3 separate regions of the Homo sapiens genome follow, and all the other regions are linked to region 1. The links come from fine-mapping of genetic effects on gene expression. A gene starts in region 1. Each other region holds a variant in brackets. All regions are shown on one strand. Distances are from middle to middle. Region 1 holds the start of KATNAL1 (katanin catalytic subunit A1 like 1). Region 2 has its middle 42 kb from the start of LINC00385. Region 3 overlaps LOC124903145 (a long non-coding RNA gene).

Region 1 (4,245 bases):
CCATTCTCTACACTGGGGCTGGAGTTATCTTTCTAAAATACAAATCTGACGCCACCACCACTCTAGCTAAAATTCTTCAATGACTGCCCTATATCAAGAAAAATTCTAAACTCTGAATATGGTGCCAAGTACTTTAAGATCTGGCCTCACCCACTAATTGCAAGTATTCTGGGATCCAGTCATTCAGAACTACCTAGCGTTTCCCAAATACAAAATACTGATTCTTCAATCTATCCTTTGCTTATTTTGTGCCATCCATTTGTCCTAGAATGACTTTCCTCATCATCACTCCAGTGAAAGCTTATTCAACTATTTTAACACAAGTTAAAAGTCAAATCACACTGAAGGCCTCCCCTGACTTCCTTAGACAGAGTCAGGATCTTTCTACTAAATGACAGAGAATGGTCAGTGCTTGAGATCAGGACCAGACCCACCTGGGCTGAAATCCCAGGTTCACACGTTACCAGCTATGATTTTGAGCAAGGCCTCTAAAGCCTGTTTCCTCATCTCTAAAAATCAGTAACTACTTCACCAACTGTTTTGAGGATTAAGTAAGGAGTTGCATGCAAAATACTCCTCACAGCACCTGACATATTCAATAAATGTTACTGTTATGTGATTATTTCCTCTGGGCTCCTAGAGCAACTTGCACTTATCTCTACCACACTACTGTGATGACAAGACTGCCCATGCAGGATACAGACTATCTTTTTTCATCTCTTTATTCTCACCACCTGGCATAATGCCTGGCACATAGGTTCCTAACACATTTTGAATGAATAAATAAAATACTTCAAACCTTATGTTGTATCACATAAGGCCTCAATTTTGTTTTCTACCTGTCTTACTAAACCTACTTTCCATCTCCTCCTTGTACAAAATTGCAACCTCAAGTAAAATTTACACAGGTCAACTTCATTTTAATTAAGAGAAAGTTTTATAGGATTTGTGGTCTTTTTGTTTTTAAACACACACACACACAAACTCACAATAATATCAACAATTCTCCAACTTACTCCATAAAGCAGCAAATTTCTAGGATGGTTATCTACCTATTAAAAAATTTTAAAGGGTCGTCAAGGAAGGTTTCGTAAATCTGTGTCAGCTTCCTTTACCAGCAAGTCTTTGAGTCAACTCTAAGGACTCAAGTGTACTCCTGAACATAAAAAATATATAAAGAATTAACTAAATAATTAAAACATGGTATTTTTCCTTCCGAAAACATGCTGAGAAATTCTGAATAACACTGGAATAATCAAAGAATTATTGCTGCCTACTGCTAAAAAAGTCTGTTTTTAAAAGTTACTAGTAATTTAAAGCTGAACTAATCAAAATATGTGTAGGCAGTGTTCAGGCTGGCAAGGGGGGGGTGGGGTGGAGCACTCATTTCACAACCTTGAACCTCAAGAAATAAAATTCAAAAATGCAAAAAGTTAAAAATGCCAGATACCACCATATAATCGCAATGACATCTTTTTATCTATTTCCACACTTAACCTTTAAACATTACTGCCCTTTGAGTAATTACCAATTGATGGGTTTAATATGCAAACACCTCTGAGCTACTTTAAAACAAACATGACTAACCCAGAAATAAACGTATCCAGGAAAGGAGAAAAACCTGTTAAAACACGGTTTCTCAGGTCTCACATCCAATGTGTGACATACATACGGTTCTGCACCGAAAGGCAGCAACCTGCGAGGGTCAGAGGCGCCGAAGACCCGAGGCCCTGCAGCTTGGGCGGCTGCTCATCCCTGAGACTGTGCAGGGCGGTGGCCCAGCCGGGGTGGGGCTGAGCGCTGCAACTGGGGCGGGCCCAGCTACAGGGCGGGAAGCCCGAGGCTCACCTCCACTTCCCTTTCCCAACGCACAGAGCCCAGGTCCGCGACCACTCAACAGCCCCCTCAAGACAAAGAGAGATTTTTTTTTCTGTCCCGGTCCGCTCAAAGTTTATCGGTCTTTCCCGGCGGTCGGGGCCGCCGGGCTTTGTAGTTCGCCAGTCCGAGCTACCCCACCAAGACCGCGAGCCCGAGGAGTCGCTGAACTACAATTCCCATGATGCACCGCGAGCCTGGCGCTCCCGCGCCCCTCCCCGTCCCCGCACGGGAGCCAGCGCCCGAGGAACCCCGCAGCCCACTGCCCTGGCGTCTCCGGCAGTGGGAGGCCGAGAGGGGCTGTTGGCTAGAGCCCTCCACCACCTGCTGTCTCGCCCTCGCCCCTTTCTCTCGGATTCATTACCCAGAAGGCGCAGGTCCGGGCACATTCAGCGATGCGGTCCAGATGGGGTGCGGGTGGGGCGCAGGCCGCCGCCGCCGCCGCCGCCGAGTCCGTTAGCTCGCGACGTGCGTGAAAAGGCGGCGGCGGCGTAGTGTTGCCATGGCAGCCGCGGCCGCGCGGTGGGCGCAGCGCGGGAGGGAGCGCGGGGGCTGTGAGTCCGCTCTGGGGCGGAGCTTGGGACTCCCGCCCAGGTTGCCGGGGGGAGGGAGGTGCAGCGGCGCGGGGTGGGAGAGCAGGGAGACAGTGACATTGAGGAGGACGTGTGGCCGACTGAGCTCTGGTCGTGCTTGATGAGCCTGCCTCCACTGCGTCCAGCCCCCGTGGCAGGGCACCTTCGTGCCTGCTGCTTTCGGAGGTGATGCCAGTGGCGTCGAAGGAGGGGGCACCCGGGGCGTCGCAGCGCCTTTCCCGCCGCCTGTCCAGGCGTCCGCCGCTGGGTCTGCCCCCAAGGGATGTGTGGATCCTACGCCACCTCTGTGTTTTTCTCCAGTCAAACCGAATTGAAGTCTTTCGCACCCCCTTTCTCCATTCTCTGGGGAGGGGGATAGAAGGGAATCCTTCGATAAGATGGAATGCATATGGCCTTTAGGATTATTCAGGAGGTTTTAGAATTTGCAAATGGCATTGCTTTCGACTGAATTTGGATTTATGCTGTTTCTTGGCAATCGTTTGTGGACTCTAGGATAAACAGGTTAAGAGCGTGGGCTTCTAAAACGAATTCTTAGTTCACGTCCTGCCCCTGTGCTTGGTAGCTGATGACCAGAGGCGCCTTTCTCACCTCTTAACGTTTTGATCTGCAAAAATGGAGATATCCATCTTGCAACTCTTGTAAGAAATACACGCATTAATACTGATGAAGCTCTATAAAACAAAGCTTAGCATTTAACAATAGCTATTAAATATTAATTATTTAATCAATAGTGATAAAAGTCAGAATAGTGGTTGGCTGTCGGGGAGGAGTTTGAGAGAATTTTTTGTAGTGATGAAAAAATTCTATAGCTAAGAGTTTCGGTTACAGAAGTATATGCACTTGTCAAAACTCTTGGAATGGGACATTTAAGATTTGTACATTTCACTGCATGTAAATTTACCTCAAAAGAGAACATAAAAATGTGTTGTTATTATTATTAGAGCTATAGACTCTAATGGAAACTACAGAGATATTCTAGGCCCAATCTCTAGATTTTATAGATGGGAAAACTGAGGCCCAGAAATTTAATAGAAAAAAAGAGGAAGGGGAGTGAATTCGTGACCTTGTCATTTTCTAGTAATGAATATCTCCTGAAAAATTATGGTTGAAAATAACAAAAATGGCTCCTGTAATCCAGCTGAGTCATCCTACCACAGAGATTTTCTTGAACTTGACTGAGTCCCTTATCCACCTTGTGGTGTTCCCCACGGCCAATGTCCTCTCAAGGATTGCACCGTCACTTCTGGCTCTCAGTTCTTGCTTTTCCTGAACACTTAGACCTCTCCACATATCACCTCTTACAACTCTCCTCTCTCTACTCCTGCTGACACATAATTTCGAAATCAGCCCCTTTTCTTTGGTTGTTTCTATAGCCAACTCTTTAGAAGGTTTGGAGCAGATAAGTGGTTTTAAATTAAGGATGCAAAAAACCTAAAATTAGAAATCCCTGCTCTTAAAAGTCCTTCAGTTCCTCCCATGATATTTTTATCCACCTACCACCTACCCCCATTTTTTCATCATAACCTGTAACCTCCCACTATTGTACCATCTTTCTGGTCCCATCTCTCCCCTCCTCTCCTCTCTTTATACAATACTTTTATTTCCATCTCCTAATCTGTGCCTTCATAGCTACCTGCCATTCCTAAACTGTTTACCAAAGTTTTTTCCTACACAAAGTAACTTCCCAAGAGGAACTCTGGAGCCAGCTATTAAAATAATATTTTTTCACATATGTATCCTCATATTCTATTTGATTCAGTCCACAGTGTAGCTGCTC
Region 2 (4,245 bases), 110 kb before region 1:
GCTCTTCGGAACTGCTTTGCATACAGGGTCCTAGTGAAGAAAGGAGGTTTTTTTTTTTTTTTTTTTTTTTTGTATGCTAAGGTTCTCATTTCCCATCGGGGATTTGAGCACCTACAACTTGCAAAACCCTGTGGAGGAGGCAACAATGAGAGCGCTCCTCGTCCTCACAGAGCTCTCCATCAACAGCTGTCAAAGAAATCATGCTAAGGGGCAAACGCAACTATACAGTAAATCATCCGGAAGGTGGGGACCATCACCCACCCCTGGGTTAATATTCCCTCCTTAGCCACCTGGCAAACACCTCTGCTTGCTTCAGCACGTGGCTGACCTCACCTCCTCCAGACCATTTCTCAGGTGCATGCTGTTATAACCACACACAGTATCCTATGACTGCTTCATGGCTTTCTCTACCAGGACATGAGTTCCTTGAGGACAGGAGTTGTGTCTCAAATTTGTTGGCATTCAGTAAGTTGGACTGATATATAGGTGTAAATAATAGGCCTATAGAAATACTTGTATGAGATTCAAATTAGAATAGACAAAAATAAGTCCTCGTGAGAGTCTCCAGACTCCCTCCCTGTGTAATCTCCCATGGGCTGCACAGAAACTTTCGTTATGAAAGACCTTGGGAAAGTCCCCGTTATGGAACCTGAGACCCTCGGACATTATATAATGCTTTTTCTTGTGAAAAGCAAATGAGACTAACAAATCATGACTCTAGTCTGCAATTCTTAAGCAAAGTAAACAAAATCTGTGTGATTTTCTCTAGAAGGTATGTTTCATAGCTGCAACAGGAAAGACAATGTGTAATGTTTGTAAATCCCCTATTTGAAGTGCCTCTTTATTGAGAAATTATGCTTTGCTTCTATTGAAAATAGAGACTTTTGATGATTAGTGTGCTAAATGAGGCAAGAGTTCTAATTCAGTGCTACCAGCAACTTCCATTTTTTGGTTCGGGTATTAAAATAGGTGAGAACAGAACCTCTTCTCCTCCTTCCTCTCCCACCTTTGCTGGAAAAGGTGCCAAATAGCTCTCACAAGCCCTCAGCAAAATGCCTCCATGCGCATATGTCTACCACGGCCACTAGGTAAGCCATGCCAATCATGGGGCTCAGAGCCTCCTGGATGATTGATGAACTCCACTTCGGAAAAAGTCTGAAGGCAGTGTGGGTATTGCCTAGATACAGCTCAGACTGTATTTCTCAGGGAATAAAAGGGAAGGGGAATATTTTTGTCCACTACTAGTATCCTAAGACTTCTGTAACACTGCGATAAAAGTATCAGAGTATATAGTCTAGTTCAGGGAAGAGAAGGGCCCCTAATTTTGGCAGACCCCAAAACAGCCATTCACTCTTTGAGTCAAAAATGGCTCACTGAAAGTCAGACTGACCTGTTCACAACGACTGGCAAGCTTAGGAGTATTACCCTCACTGCATCCACTTTTTTCAGAGGGAGCGACAAAGAGCCAGGGTACACACGTGGACCCGCATTACTTGCAGTGGGGAAAAAAACTCCACAAAAATAAAAAGAGCTAACCTGTGATACGCTGGTAAACTAACTCTTCCAGGGGGATAGGGGATAGGTAAAGCCCTGATGTGTAGTGTTTGCCAATTTCCATGTGTGAATCCTCTCACCGCGGCTACAGTTTCAGCTATCAACGGTGGAAAGGCTTGCGACATTCCTTAACATTCCACAGTTGGCTTTGGGACAGCCTGGTATGTACCAGCCCTCGCACATCACTGCAGCTAACATTAAGGGTTTGTATGGTGCCGTGATAAGCACTTTAAATTCAGTATCTCATTTAATCTTCCCAATGGTCCTACAAAGGAAGGTCCTGTTATCATCTCCATTTTGAGGTGAGATAACACAGCCACAGAGAGGATAAGTAACTTGCCCAAAGTCCCACAGCTTAGAAGTGGTACAGCTGAGGCTAGAATTGTTTTCTGACTGCAGACTTGAAGTTCTCACAATACCCAAATACATCTCATGATCCAAAAGAGGCCTGTTTTAAATAGCCAATAAGTATCTAGCCAAATAGCAGGAACAGTGCCTTGGCCACAGGAGGCACAGTCCAAATAAGACCAACTATTTGTGGCTTCTGTCAACCTTCTTCACCCACTCACAGCAGAACACATAAGGATTCCTTTCCCTTGAAAACTCGATCCTCTCCTTCCTTGATTCTTCCTTCCA[G/A]TCTGACTCTCAAACCTTAACACTTTCCTGTTAGTGACTAAGAGTCTCTGTTCCTCTCTTGGTCCTCCCTTGAACGATTCCAATACCATGTACTATAACTGAAGAGCCCTATTCCTTTTCCAGGAACAAAGAGAGGTCACCAAGCAGCTGTGTTGCCCTAGGGAGCTGGCAGCTATCTAAATGTCCTATACTAGCACAAGAAGCACAGTGAGCTGGTCCTTCCCCAGGGGATGTTTTTAACATCAGATGGAGAAACTGTTTTTGACACTGGCACAGGGATCACTGCTGACTTTTTAAAAAGGAATGAACAGTGACATATTCATATCATATCTAGAAGTCAGGAATAATTTTAAGACTGAGGAGAAATAAAAACTCAACAGAAATTAAGCGTGTCTTAAATCTTTCAAGAACTATCATGTCTAGACTGATCAAAATCAAGAAAACCACCACTGGGATAGTTAGAATCCCCAGGCATTTGAGGGTTAGGGAGGAAGGCAGAGAGAGGGCAGATGCCCAGGGCCTGACCCTGAGAACCTGATTGGCCAGGTTCAAACGATAAAGAGACTCACAATGGCCTGTCAGGAATAGCATGAAGGATGAGCCCCCAGGTGGCCAGGAAACCAGGCATGGCTGCTGCTGCTCACCAGGCCACTCATCAAATGCGTCACTGAGTAATCCGCACAGAGGAAGCTGGGAGAGGGCCAGGGCTGCAGCCAGTGGCACCCTGCAGTCCAGGAGGAGGTCTGAAATTGCAAGCTGTCCACCATTAACAAGTAATGAAATCAATTTCCTGGGGCAGGTCCAGGAATTTTACAAAATGAAACCAATTAGAAAATGTCAGAATGTATCATATATAATAAAGGCAAAGCTATTGTTTTATTAAATTTTTGCTGTATGCACAGAAACAGGCTCATATACATATTTAGGTTAAATGAAATGCTTACTTCCTCTACTCTACAACTTTATTCTTTTTTTAAAAAAGGGATGAGAAAATAATTACTATATGAAAGAAATCCATGTTACATAAAGAAAAGTGATGTTGGGAAATGTTTTTCCATTGTTACATGATTTTGTTGTCAAAAACACTGAGCCTCTTTTTTAAGAACTCTAATATGTGCAACTTAAAATAATTGTCCTGTTTGTTTTAAAATCTTCCAAATGAAGAGGTGCAATAGGTTCTGAACATTCAACATAAAATGCAACCTTTCAATTAATTTGCAAGAACTGACATCAAGAAAGACGCAAATAGCCAAATAAACACTTCTGCTTAGTGGGCATGATTTTAAAATGAAGCTCATTACTTCAGATTGCAGCCAATAATCTGTTTCTTCCACTTGGATCTACACACCTTTGTGAAGTTACACTTTTAGCTGTAACAGTCATTAAAACTAAGCATTGAAATAAAAATGAAATCATTGTCCCTAAATTGTTATCCTAAGATTTAAAAAAAAATAAAGTATATTTAATGTCATGGCTCTCAATGAAAATATTACTCCTATTTTTTGGAAGGATTTTGTAGCAGTAAGATTACTTTTCAGTGTCTTCACATTATAGTCTTCCATATTTCTACATTTCATGGATTTTTATAAATTATATACAAGCACTACTATAATTTACAAGTATCCTTAAACTACCAACATAGTAACAGTGTGTAACTCACACACACTTTATTGTTAACAAAGCCTGAAGAGCACTGTCCTAGGTGAGAGTGACAGTGACAGTGGTCAACACAATCCTGCCCTATGGGTCAAATGAAATGGGGTCAAGAGCTATGATTGACTCTTACTTAGGCCAAGGGCTTCTGGGAGACAGAAGGGCAGACACTGATTTGATGTCTACAAATATTGCTTTAAAAATTTTTTATAATTTTATATTTCTTTTACAAAGTAAATAATTATCATATGAAAAAATACAAAGTAAAAGGTAAAAGTCTCCCTTAATGCAAGAGGTTTTGCATTTTGATTTAAATAAAGACAATTTTAAGTGCTGGTTTTAAAAAGGAATTACCATGAAAGTTTTTTCCTAAAATACTAAGAATTCATCTATGGCGCGAAC
Region 3 (4,245 bases), 24 kb after region 1:
AATGCTGTTGTGTATATTAGTAGTTCTTTTTTTCATTGTTGAGTTGTATTGCATTGTGTATGTAAATAAGTGTGATAGATTATATACATCTATATTGTAATATATAGAGAGATTATATATATATATATATATACACACATATCTCATAATTTGTTTATCCATTATCCTGTTGATGGATATTTGGGTGGTTTCCAAGTTTTGACTATAATGAGTAAGGCTGGTATGAACATTCTTATGTAAGTCTTTTTGTAGACATATGTTTTCATTTTTCTTGGGTAAACATGTAGAAGTGAAATTGCTGGACCATAGGGTATATATGTTCAATGTTATAAAAACTGCCAAACAGCTCTCCAAAGTGGTTGCACCTGTTTAACTTTTTAAACTTAGTATTTCCTTTGTTCATTTGACCACAGAGCCCCACAGATCTGTAAAATGAGCAGGTTGGACCAGACAGCTTTTAAGATTCTTTCCAGCTTTATGCAGTGATAGAGGCCAAGGCATTCAGGAGTGGAGTTGATCAAGGTCAGGATTTGTCTTCTTTCATAAATCGTGTAGGCAAGAGCAAATGACACGAAACCCAGAATAACCAAATGTTGGGAGTAGGAAGATAGAAAACATTGCTGAGTCCAGGGAGTGGAGAAGAGGTAATAACTAGCAGGTAGTCACCTGGACAGAGGCATGAAAGAGGAAATATTTAAGCCAGAAGGAATCTGAGGTAGAAACAATTAAAGCAGAAACCACGGTATACAGAAGACTCCGGCAGTGTTTAAGAAGTTTCTTTGGCCCAGGGGCATCAATAATGATAAGACATTCAGAAAACTCTTCAAGACCACTGTTTTCAAAAAAGGGGGAGTTGCAGAGAGGATTTGGGGCACAACTGAAAATAAGGTACAGTAAAACTATTCATTTTCATTCAATTTATTAGGAATTTAAGTTTTAAATGACATATTACTGTTGGGATATAATTATCTGTGGATCTCTTGCATTTCTGTATTTTTTTTGTTTTTGTTTTTGTTTTTGTTTTTGTTTTTGTTTTTGTTTTGAGGGAGGGTCTTGCTCTATCACTCAGGCTGGAGTGTAGTGGCGAGATCTCGGCTCAGGGAAACTTCCACCTTCCCGGTTCAAGCGATCCTCCCACCTCAGCCTCCTGAGTAGCTGGGATTACAGGCACGCACCACCATGCCCTGCTAAATTTTGTATTGTTTGTTTGTTTGTTTTAGTAGAGACTGGGTTTCACCATGTTGCCCAGGCTGTTCTTGAACTCATGGGCTCAAGTGATCCACCTGCCTCAGCCTCCCAAAGTGCTGAGATTACAGGTGTGAGCCACCATGCCGGGCTGCATTTCTGTATATTTTGAGTAGAAACACTGCCTGTCCTTTGCTCTGGCCTATCTTTTGAAGGATGTTTCTGTAGTGAACAAACTTGAAAACAGAGATCATATGTACCTTGGGAGCAAAGGGTAGGTTTGCCTACATCCTTGGAAGATAGAGATAATAAGTAATCCTGAAATCAAGGGCGTGCATGCTTACTGCCCTTTGTTCAGGTCCCCTAAGCTCAGAATTCCTGTCCTAAAATGCAACCCACTGCATTTGCATGTATAATCTGACCCTCTTCAATCACTCTTTTGAGACGTGGGGAGCCAGTATAAATTCTTTTTTTTTTTTTTTTTTGAGACGGAGTCTCGCTCTGTCGCCCCGGCTGGAGTGCAGTGGCGGGATCTCGGCTCACTGCAAGCTCCGCCTCCCGGGTTCACGCCATTCTCCTGCCTCAGCCTCCCAAGTAGCTGGGACTACAGGCGTCCGCCACTACGCCCGGCTAATTTTTTGTATTTTTAGTAGAGACGGGGTTTCACCGTTTTAGCCGGGATGGTCTCGATCTCCTGACCTCGTGATCCGCCCGCCTCGGCCTCCCAAAGTGCTGGGATTACAGGCGTGAGCCACCG[C/T]GCCCGGCCGCCAGTATAAATTCTTTAAAGCACGCTGACAGTTTATCTACTGCTATGGCTGCAGATAATAAACCATCTCCCTGACTCAACAGTCTCACGTCTTTTCCCACTATCCATGAAACTAACTTGGAATAGCTAACTTGTTAGCTTGCAAGTGGGGTAAAATCTCAACCCCTTCAAAGTTCTTGACAATTACATATGAATTCTTGAATAAAAGCAAAAGTTCTTCCTTCACACAATTCCAAAGTCTAATTTGTCAACAAAAGGAATTCTAAAATCAGGAGGTTTCTTTTTTAAAACAGAGGTTCAAGAAATTAAAGATTTCTCAACATGTTGTTCATTTTTAAACCTAACAGCTCTGGAGCAAGTATTTTCCTGCACTTTTTCAAAAGTTATTGTGCTTGTCCCAAAAAGATACTCCCTTTATTCCAGGAACCGACACAATAAAACATCTCTCAGATGCTTGGAGGATCAAACTCAGTCTCAGTTGCTGAGATCACTAGTACGGCCCAAGGGCATGGGCCTTCTGTGCTTCTTCAATTTCAAAGGTTGGCTGGCTCACTGCCCCAGCCCGCCCCATGGAAACCCTGAGCAAGGCACATCTCCTGCGTGGTTTCTGAAAGGCAGAAGATAAATGTCTATCCACAGCGAAAACAGTAGAAGAGCCCTTCAGCACATCTCTGGCCAGAAAGCTGAGGGTTGGTGGCAGGGCGCCCACACATTCAACTTGCCAGTAACAGTCCAGGGTCTTGTTGTTCTGCATTTGCACAGAAATTTAGACAGTCATGGAAGTCAAAGAATGCAGATGACACTGTAGTTCCAACCCCACAGCCCATGTGTCACCTCCTTTGTTTCAGTCACTTCATGGATGTCATCTTTTGAAAATGATCTAAGTCACATGAAGGCTTCCCAGCCACTCCTAGCTTCACATAATTGTATCCTTTTCTAAAATCCTGACCTTCCCTTAACCCATTTCTCTGCAGTGCCAGCATCTCACCAGTCTCCGAAAAGCAATCCCCTTTCTATTCTGAATCAGTGATCCTCTTCTTCATCAGAACTGATTCTTACCTTCAACCATTAAATCAGATGATTTCTTGAGATTCCTTCCAGATACAGTATCAGTCAATGTCCCCCACTCACTTATTCACTCTCCTTAGAATACATATATATTCAGAAAAAAAAAATGACATTGATCCTATCTATCTTCCCTCCTCTTCAAATACAGGTTCCTAAAGTGTCCAGTTTACAAGTCAATTCACTGCTGGATAATTTAATATGTGGCTTACTCTCTATATGCCATAGAGGCAGTGTGCTTAATAAGGTCCCTAAAGACCTCATTTTCAATGCATTGAGCATCTCCCCTCTCTCCTCCTCATTCTCTCTTATCCTAAGGGTGTGTGTGTGTGTGTGCATTGCACACGGTATTGTCTCAATTGTGTCCCCCCAACAATTCATGTTGCATCCCTAATCCCCAAGGTGACTGTATTTGGAGATAGGGCCTTTAAGGTGGTAACTAAGTTTAAATGAGATCATAAGGGTGGGGCCCGAATCCCACAGGACTGGTGTCCTTAGGAGAAGGGACACCAGAGAGCTGTCTTTCTCTGCACATGTGAGCACACACACAGAGGAAAGGCCATGTGAGGACAAGGCGAGAAGGCACCGTCAGGCAAGCCAGGAAGAGAGGCCTCACCAGAAACAAAATTTACTGGCACCTTGATATTGGACTTCTAGTCTACAGAACAGTGAGAAAATAAATTTCTGTTGTTTTAAGCCACCTGGTCAGTGATATTTTTTATGACAGCGAGAGCTGACTAATGCAGCGTGCATGCCCTTTATTGGTTCTTAACCTTTTTATGCCTAGTAAACTATTAAAAGGTAGTAAGCCTAGCAGACTGCATACAATATGCATTCTATTCTGTGTAGTATAGTCTACATAGTATGCAAAGCACACATAACATATTAGATAATTATAGAATGACAGGGCTAGAAGGAAAGGTCACTGTTAACAGCAGAGTGCAGGCTATTTGCAGAAAAAAGGAACAGAGAGCAAATGCATGAGTTGTCTTATTTATATTTCAAATAAGCTCTTCTTTCAGCTAACATGCTTATACCTTGTTTACTCACCATTAGTAGCCATTGATAAATATAACCATTTTAAATTTACATGCACAATTACATTTTGCAAAAAGGTCAACCTTAGTATTTTCATACAGTACCACCTGGTGTGGAGGAGGAAAGTGTGACTTAAGCTAATGTTTAATGCAAAAAGAGGGATGATTCATTAATGGCTCTTATTTCATGTT

Evidence for each region.
Region 2: its variant is fine-mapped to the expression of KATNAL1 in whole blood (TOPMed, PIP above 0.99). The same link has a PIP of 0.9 or more in unexposed skin.
Region 3: its variant is fine-mapped to the expression of KATNAL1 in tibial nerve (GTEx, PIP 0.99).

What each region holds. Positions count from the first base shown.
Region 1 is chr13:30,305,092-30,309,336 of GRCh38, forward strand. It overlaps KATNAL1 (katanin catalytic subunit A1 like 1), which reads right to left and starts at 2,460. Exons shown (of 11, transcript NM_032116.5): 1 at 2,240-2,460. RefSeq lists silencers at 2,095-2,204, 2,235-2,464.
Region 2 is chr13:30,193,408-30,197,652 of GRCh38, forward strand. No RefSeq gene overlaps it. Among named protein-coding and RNA genes, the nearest start is that of LINC00385, 42 kb to the left of the region's middle. The variant G/A (reference allele first, on the strand shown) is at 2,191.
Region 3 is chr13:30,328,950-30,333,194 of GRCh38, forward strand. The region is part of intron 1 of LOC124903145 (a long non-coding RNA gene); the gene reads left to right. Among named protein-coding and RNA genes, the nearest start is that of LINC00427, 11 kb to the left of the region's middle. The variant C/T (reference allele first, on the strand shown) is at 1,943.